Linked DNA regions of Homo sapiens. Changing the gene in region 1 together with any one later gene gives a genetic interaction. Each region holds a gene or a part of one and is shown on either strand. Other genes may lie near its edges.

What was found.
Region 2: changes in NT5M (region 1) and DAPK3 together harm fitness less than expected from each alone (positive genetic interaction), as found in Homo sapiens cells (one large-scale study listed by BioGRID).

The regions. Positions count from the first base shown.
Region 1 is NC_000017.11:17,344,754-17,348,452, forward strand, and holds the end of NT5M (5'(3')-deoxyribonucleotidase, mitochondrial isoform 4 precursor), read left to right. Parts: exon of another isoform or gene 1-40; coding exon 41-155; coding exon of another isoform or gene 156-173; intron 174-474; coding exon of another isoform or gene 475-559; intron 560-2,051; coding exon 2,052-2,194; 3' UTR 2,195-2,910; downstream 2,911-3,699. UniProt on the Homo sapiens protein: Dephosphorylates specifically the 5' and 2'(3')-phosphates of uracil and thymine deoxyribonucleotides, and so protects mitochondrial DNA replication from excess dTTP. Has only marginal activity towards dIMP and dGMP.
Region 2 is NC_000019.10:3,957,746-3,961,195, reverse strand, and holds the end of DAPK3 (death-associated protein kinase 3), read left to right. Parts: intron 1-34; coding exon 35-187; intron 188-1,091; coding exon 1,092-1,137; intron 1,138-1,558; coding exon 1,559-2,095; 3' UTR 2,096-2,743; downstream 2,744-3,450. UniProt on the Homo sapiens protein: Serine/threonine kinase which is involved in the regulation of apoptosis, autophagy, transcription, translation and actin cytoskeleton reorganization. Involved in the regulation of smooth muscle contraction.

The DNA.
Region 1 (3,699 bases):
ACTTTCTTCTCACCACCTGCCCTTGCCTGTTTGCGTCCAGTATGCCTGGGTGGAGAAGTACTTTGGCCCTGACTTTCTGGAGCAGATTGTGCTGACCAGAGACAAGACCGTGGTCTCTGCTGACCTTCTCATAGACGACCGGCCGGACATCACAGGCAAGTGGCCTGCGACAGGTGAGGAGCACGTGGGGAGGGCCCCAGCCTTGGCCCCCTTCTCCTGGGCAGTGAGCACTCAGTTGCTTCCTGCCCCACTTAGTCACCAGCTGTTTGCCAGGCACTGAGCCCCTCCCCTTCGGGAAGACAAGGCCCCCTCTGTATGGGCTGTGGCCTGGTGCTCCTGGGAGCTGGGAGGAGTGGGTGCCAGCTCTAGGGTTAGCTTGAGGGGTGGCCTTGGGGAAGTCCCTTCAGCTTCAAAGCCTTGTCTTCCTCATGTAACATGGGGACTCAACTCTGGTTTCCAAATGTTTGTTTTTAGCAACAAAACCCATTTTTTCCCCCAAAAGCAATGTGGACTGATGCAATGAATGACAGGAGGGCAGAGCAGAGCTCCTGCAGGGAAGGTGGGTTGGGACAGAAGACCCCCCTCCCCAAAACCAAACAAGCCAGTCAACCTTGAACTGCCGTAGAAAGGAGAGGGAGATGGGCGTGGTGACTCACGCCTGTAATTTGGGAGGCTGATGTGGGTGGATGGCTTGAGCCCAGGAGTGTGAAACCAGCCTGGCCAACATAGCGAGACTCTCTCTACAAAAAATACAAAAATTATCTGGGCATGGTGGTGCATGCCTGTAGTCCCAGCTACTTCAGGGGCTGAAGTGGAAGGATTGTTTGAGCCTAGGAGTTGGAGACCAGCCTGGGCAACATGGTGAGACTCCCTGTCTCTACAAAAAAAAAAAAAAAAACACAAAAAAATTAGCTGATCATCATGGCGCATGCCTGTGGTCCCTGCTACTCTGGAGGCTGAGGTGGGAAAATCACCTGAGCTGGGGAGGTGGAGGCTGCAGCGAGCTGTGATTGCACCACTGCATTCCAGTCTGGGTGACAGAGTAAGACCCTGTCTCCAGAAAACAAAACAAAATACAACACAGCACAGGAGAGGGGAAGTTTTTTGGTTTACCTAACTGGAAAGGGGTGAGGAGGGCTTTGGCCGGCCAAATCTAGGCGTTGAAACTGCCCGTGAGTGTTGTTTCTTTGCCTCTTGGCTCTGCCCTGGCCTGGTTTTTGACATCCTCCTCCTGGTAGCCGTCAGTAGTTTCAGGTCGAGTCTTTTGGACACCCCAGTGGGAATATACATTCTATTTTTTTCCCTGATTGTTTTAGAACTGGCTTGGGAAACATGCCCACCTCCATCACTGCGTCCAGAGGGTGGACTCCACGAGTGTACCCACCCCACCCCACCCTCCCCAGCCTCGTGGGTTCCCGCCAGAGTCAGGGCAGACAGTGGTCTGTGGGGTCCCGTGACCTTGAGGGCCCAAAGGCTGGCTTGGCCTCCATCTCCAGCCACAGGTTGTTGGGGGCGGGTGTATAACCCAAAGGGGTGGCATCACCAGCAGCACCAGTGTGGACACGAGGGAATGAGGCCTGGAGAGGCTGCAGGGGCCTGTGATCAGCGGCTGGTGAGCTGCAGAGCTGGTGCCACCTGGCCTTCCCACACCAGGCCATCAGGATGGTGGGGCACAGAGAGGGAAGTTGGGGGAACACCGTGTGGTGTAAGCCATCAGGATGGCAGGGCACGGAGAGGGAAGTCGGGGGAACACCATGTGGTGTAAGCCATCAGGAGGCGGGGCACATGTCCCTTGCCAGTGCTGGTGGTGACAGTGACCCGCAGTCAGTCCCTGTTGACTGAGCACTGGCTGCGCGTGCTGACGGCCTCCTTGCCGCATCTCGTGCCATCCTCACACCCGCTGCGAAGGCGGGTGTGCGTGCAGTCACCCCTTTACAGAGGAAACAAGTTTTGGCAAGGCCAGATGCCTGCCTGGATACCCAGGTTTCCACCCTAGGCGGCTGCGCTCCAGGTCTCCACTGCTGAGCTGAATGCCGCTTTCCCACCCACAGGGGCCGAGCCAACCCCCAGCTGGGAGCATGTCCTCTTCACCGCCTGCCACAACCAGCACCTGCAGCTGCAGCCCCCCCGCCGCAGGCTGCACTCGTGGGCGGACGACTGGAAGGCCATTCTGGACAGCAAGCGGCCCTGCTGAGCTGGACTGTGCTTCGGGCTCCTCTGTGGGGCTCTGACCTCAGGGCTCCCAGCTCGGGGCCTGTGGGGCCAGTATGCTGGTCTGGGAGTCCCTCCTAGACTCCTGGGCCCCATGACCTCCTGCTGCATGTCCCTTCCCTTCCCCAGCCCTGCCAGGCCTTAACCTGATCACGGGGCAGGGCTGGGCCCTCTGGGCGCTTGGACATAGACACGTGGTCCCAGGCCGTTCAGCCTGACCTCAGGCAGCAGGCACCAAGCTGCCAGAAGCCCAGGGGCTCAGGACAGGGAGGAGTTGAGGCCACTGTTCAGGGGGCTGGTGGCCGTCTCCACTCCCTAGGCAAGTTCTCTGAGGCAGAAGGGGGTTCCCTGTTCCCAGAGTCTGCAGCCATCAGCAAGGAGGACCAGGAACCCGGCGACTGAGGTGCTTCCAGGTGGGGACAAGCCCCTCTTGGTCTCAGCCACAGCACCCCTTATTCCAGCTGCCCTGCCCAACCTGCTCACCCCACATGACCTTCTGTGTATTCAGCAAACACTCACTAGGTGACAGCGGCCACCAGGCTCTGTGCTGGGGGACGATACTGGCCCTGGCCTCGACCAGCTTAGAGGTTTCTCACACCTCTGTTCCCAGGGCCCCGCTCAGGGCCCAGCAGAGAGTCCGTAGGCTTGAACATGTGTTGAGTGCATGAAAAATAAATGCTGTTCATGTGTGTAGCTCAAGGCTGTGGCCTGCCCTAAGATCCTCTAGCGTCTGCCCCCACTGGGGACCCAGCTTCAGGTCTTGTAAGTGTCTGGGCAGTTCCACTGCATTGAAGACAGGCGGAGGAAGGCATGACTTCAGCCCATGCCTCGCAGGGTGGGTCCTAGTGGTGGTCTCCTCGGGCCACCCACCCACTCTCGTTGGTGAGACTTAGGAGGTGGGTCTTAGTGGTGGTCTCCTCGGGCCACCCACCCACTCTCATTGGTGAGGTTTAGGAGATGGGCTCCAGACACTCGGTTGCTCTCTCAAGTGCCTCCTTCCCGCACCTGCCCCAGTGCTTCAGAGCAGGGTCCCCCGTCCCCCTCTCCTCCGCTCTTCTCCCAAGGCCAAGTTTCTGTGGGATCGCAGGAGCCCTGTGGGGAAGGCTGGTGTTAGAGTCTCAGCTTCTGTTCCTTTTGACCCGCTGGGAAGTGACAGCTTGAACCAGCCACCTCCCCACTAACCTTTGGAGAGGTTTTGGGACCACTTTCTTGTCCTTATGCCCTTCCCGTTACTGCTCTGGCCGCTCTCCCATCATGGCCCTTGAAGGGAACATGGGTTGCCCATGCCCCTAATTCACCCCAGCTCTGGGGCCCTCCTGGCAGGCCTCTCTGCCTTATATGACAGAGATGCTTTGGGCTGCCCTGGAGGCAGGGTCAGATAGGAGAGAAGACAAGGGGAAGGCACCCATGGCCCAAGGTTGGCTGAGCTTTTTGATGTTCCTGTTCTTATAGTCTCAGGAGCTTGGGCTCCATCACCCACCTTAGGGA
Region 2 (3,450 bases), on another chromosome or scaffold:
AGGACCCCACTGAGCCCCCACGCCTGTCTCGCAGCCTGAGCGGTGCATCCCCGTTCCTGGGCGAGACCAAGCAGGAGACGCTCACCAACATCTCAGCCGTGAACTACGACTTCGACGAGGAGTACTTCAGCAACACCAGCGAGCTGGCCAAGGACTTCATTCGCCGGCTGCTCGTCAAAGATCCCAAGTACGAGGGGCCGGCAGGGGGCACGGGGTGGGACATGGGACACAGGCCCACTCCACCCACGGAGGCTCCAGAGGACTCTCCTCCCAGCGCCACCTCCCTGCGGCTGGGGATCAGACATTGCTTACCCCTTGGGCTGGAGAGAGTAAACTGATAAACTGGTGGCCCAAGCTGGCCATTGCCATGGTTTTTTTTTTTTTTTTTTTTTGAGACGGAGTCTTTTTTTTTGAGACGGAGTCTTGCTCTGTCTCCCAGGCTGGAGTGCAGTGCAGTGGCGTGATCTCGGCTCACTGCAGCCTCTGCCTCCCGGGTTCAGGCTATTCTCCTGCGTTAGCCTCCCAAGTAGCTGGGATTATAGACGCCCGCCACCACGCCTGGCTAATTTTTGTATTTTTAGTAGAGACAGGGCTTCACCATGTTGCCCAGGCTTGTCTTGAACTCCTGACCTCCTTGGTTTGTGATTTGCCTGCCTTGGTCTCCCAAAGTGCTGGGATTGCGGGCGTGAGACACCGTGTCTGGCTGCTTGCTGTGTTTTTAGCAAACTTTTAATTAGTTGCCGGTGTGTAAAGTAAGGATCCATGTAAAATTCCAGGTCACTTGTTTTCCTGTAAACACTTAGAATTCTGGCAGTGCTGAGCCCTCACTCGTAGGCCTCCCCGGGCCTCCATGGCCGCCCAGTCCCTCTCTCGGGCGCCTGGGTTTGCGACTCCAGCCTGAGGTCTCAGCTCTCTCCACCACCCCCCAGAAAACCCCACGCTCCCTGCAGTACCCTTGTTCAGCTTCTGTGGTTGGCTGAGCAGAGGCTGGGGGGCGACTTTAGGGCTTTTGGGGGTCCCGGGAGTCAGTTGTTCACGGGAGGACGGGACAGATGGTGCAGGTGTACCTAACCAGAGCGGGGGTCTTCCAGGCGGAGAATGACCATTGCCCAGAGCCTGGAACATTCCTGGATTAAGGTAAGTGGGGAGGTGGGGGAGCTCCCTGGGCTTCCCGCCTTGGCCTTCTCGCTGGGGTCCCGGGGGGCCTTCAGCATTTAAGGCTTGTGGATGTGACAACCCCCAGTGGCTGGGGAGGGTCCCCAGAGGAGTGAGCCTGTGTGGCGGGGGTTGGGTCCTGGGCGTGGGATGTCCAGCACCCGACAGACCTGGTGGCATCCTTGGCTGGTGTGTGTCCAACGGGGCTGACTCCTGGGGCCAGGGCCGCAGCGTTTTTCTCGAGAGAGCACTCTCGGCTTTGCGTCGGGCTGGGCAGTCTCCGTCACGAGGCGTTGACTCTGCTGCCGGATGAGCCCCTGAACCTCAGTTCACACTGGCAGGTGGGGGCTGGCGGGGCTGGGTGGCATCGCGGGGACCCCGCTCAGGCTTCCCTCCTTCCTAGGCGATCCGGCGGCGGAACGTGCGTGGTGAGGACAGCGGCCGCAAGCCCGAGCGGCGGCGCCTGAAGACCACGCGTCTGAAGGAGTACACCATCAAGTCGCACTCCAGCTTGCCGCCCAACAACAGCTACGCCGACTTCGAGCGCTTCTCCAAGGTGCTGGAGGAGGCGGCGGCCGCCGAGGAGGGCCTGCGCGAGCTGCAGCGCAGCCGGCGGCTCTGCCACGAGGACGTGGAGGCGCTGGCCGCCATCTACGAGGAGAAGGAGGCCTGGTACCGCGAGGAGAGCGACAGCCTGGGCCAGGACCTGCGGAGGCTACGGCAGGAGCTGCTCAAGACCGAGGCGCTCAAGCGGCAGGCGCAGGAGGAGGCCAAGGGCGCGCTGCTGGGGACCAGCGGCCTCAAGCGCCGCTTCAGCCGCCTGGAGAACCGCTACGAGGCGCTGGCCAAGCAAGTAGCCTCCGAGATGCGCTTCGTGCAGGACCTCGTGCGCGCCCTGGAGCAGGAGAAGCTGCAGGGCGTGGAGTGCGGGCTGCGCTAGGCGCAGTGGGGTGGGCCAGGCCCCAGGACAGCCGGAGCTCGGCCTGCGGTGGGGGCGCTTCCTGTGGACGCTGCGCCTCCCATCGCCCGGGTGCCTGTCCTTGCCCAGCGCCACCAGGCTGGAGGCGGAGTGGGAGGAGCTGGAGCCAGGCCCGTAAGTTCGCAGGCAGGGGTGGGTGTGGGACGGGGCTGCTTCTCTACACAGCCTCCACGCTGGCCTTCACCTTCACCCCTGCATCGTCGGTGACCCTGGGACCCTCCAGGCAGCGTGGCCTGTGGCACCGTGAGGGTTGGGACCCACCGAGGCGCAGAGGCGGCCCGAATGCAGCCCTGGTTCAGGCCCGGAGGAGGGTTTGCGGGTAGTTGCACGGACAATTCGGCGGGGTGCTGCCTGTTGCTGCCATTAGCCCAGGAGGAGGTCGTGGGACGGGGAGGGTGGGATGGACGGCGGACAGGCAGTCCCCACGCTGCTGGGTGGCGCCGGGCTTGGTGGGGTCTTCCACTGTGTGCCCTTCTCGCCGAGGCCGGTCCCCCGGGTGTGGGGTGCCCTGCTGCGGACTCCTCCGCGAGCCCCATCGTCGCGCCTGTGGACGCCTAGGCAAGAGCGGCCCTCTGCAGCCAAGAGAAATAAAATACTGGCTTCCAGATACGCGGGTGTTGTGTGCCTCAGGCCTTGGCAGGGGACAGCCAGCCCTTGGCCACTGGGGATATGCCCTCCGCGGCGTTCATGTTTCTCTCTGTGTTCCATGCCTGCCGCTGTGCTCAGGAAGGAGGGGACAAACCGGGGGTCCTCGCAGACCTTCACGGTGTCCTGGGAGCTGCCGGATCTTGGTCTCAGCTGCCCCGAGTGTTTTGATTGCAATGAGGTGGAAGCTCTGGGCAGCTGAGGTGGATCAGAAGCGTTTCCTGTCCCTTTGCGCCTTACGGGATGCTGCTGTGTCCCACGTGGGAGCCCCTGCCCCGTCTGGAGCCACATGCAGGTGGCCCTGGAGGGGGAGCGGCTCAGCTCAGCTGCTAGGGCTCACAGGTGGTTTCAGAGAGGGGCCCCGACCCTGTCCATCCTCCCTGGAGGAAGTTTTTTTGCTTTTTTTTTTTTTTTTTTTTTTGAGAGCGAGTCTGGCCCTGTTGCCCAGGCTGGAGTGCAGTGGTGCGATCTTGGCTCACTGTAACCTCGGTCTCCTGGACTCAAGCGGGTCTCCTGTCTCAGCCTCCCAGGTGTCTGGGATTACAGGCATACACCACCACACGTGGCTAATTTTTTTTTTTTTTTTTTTGAGGTGGAGTTTTGCTCTTGTTGCCCAGGCTGGAGTGCAGTGGTGTGGTCTTGGCTCACCGCAACCTCCGTCTCCCATGTTC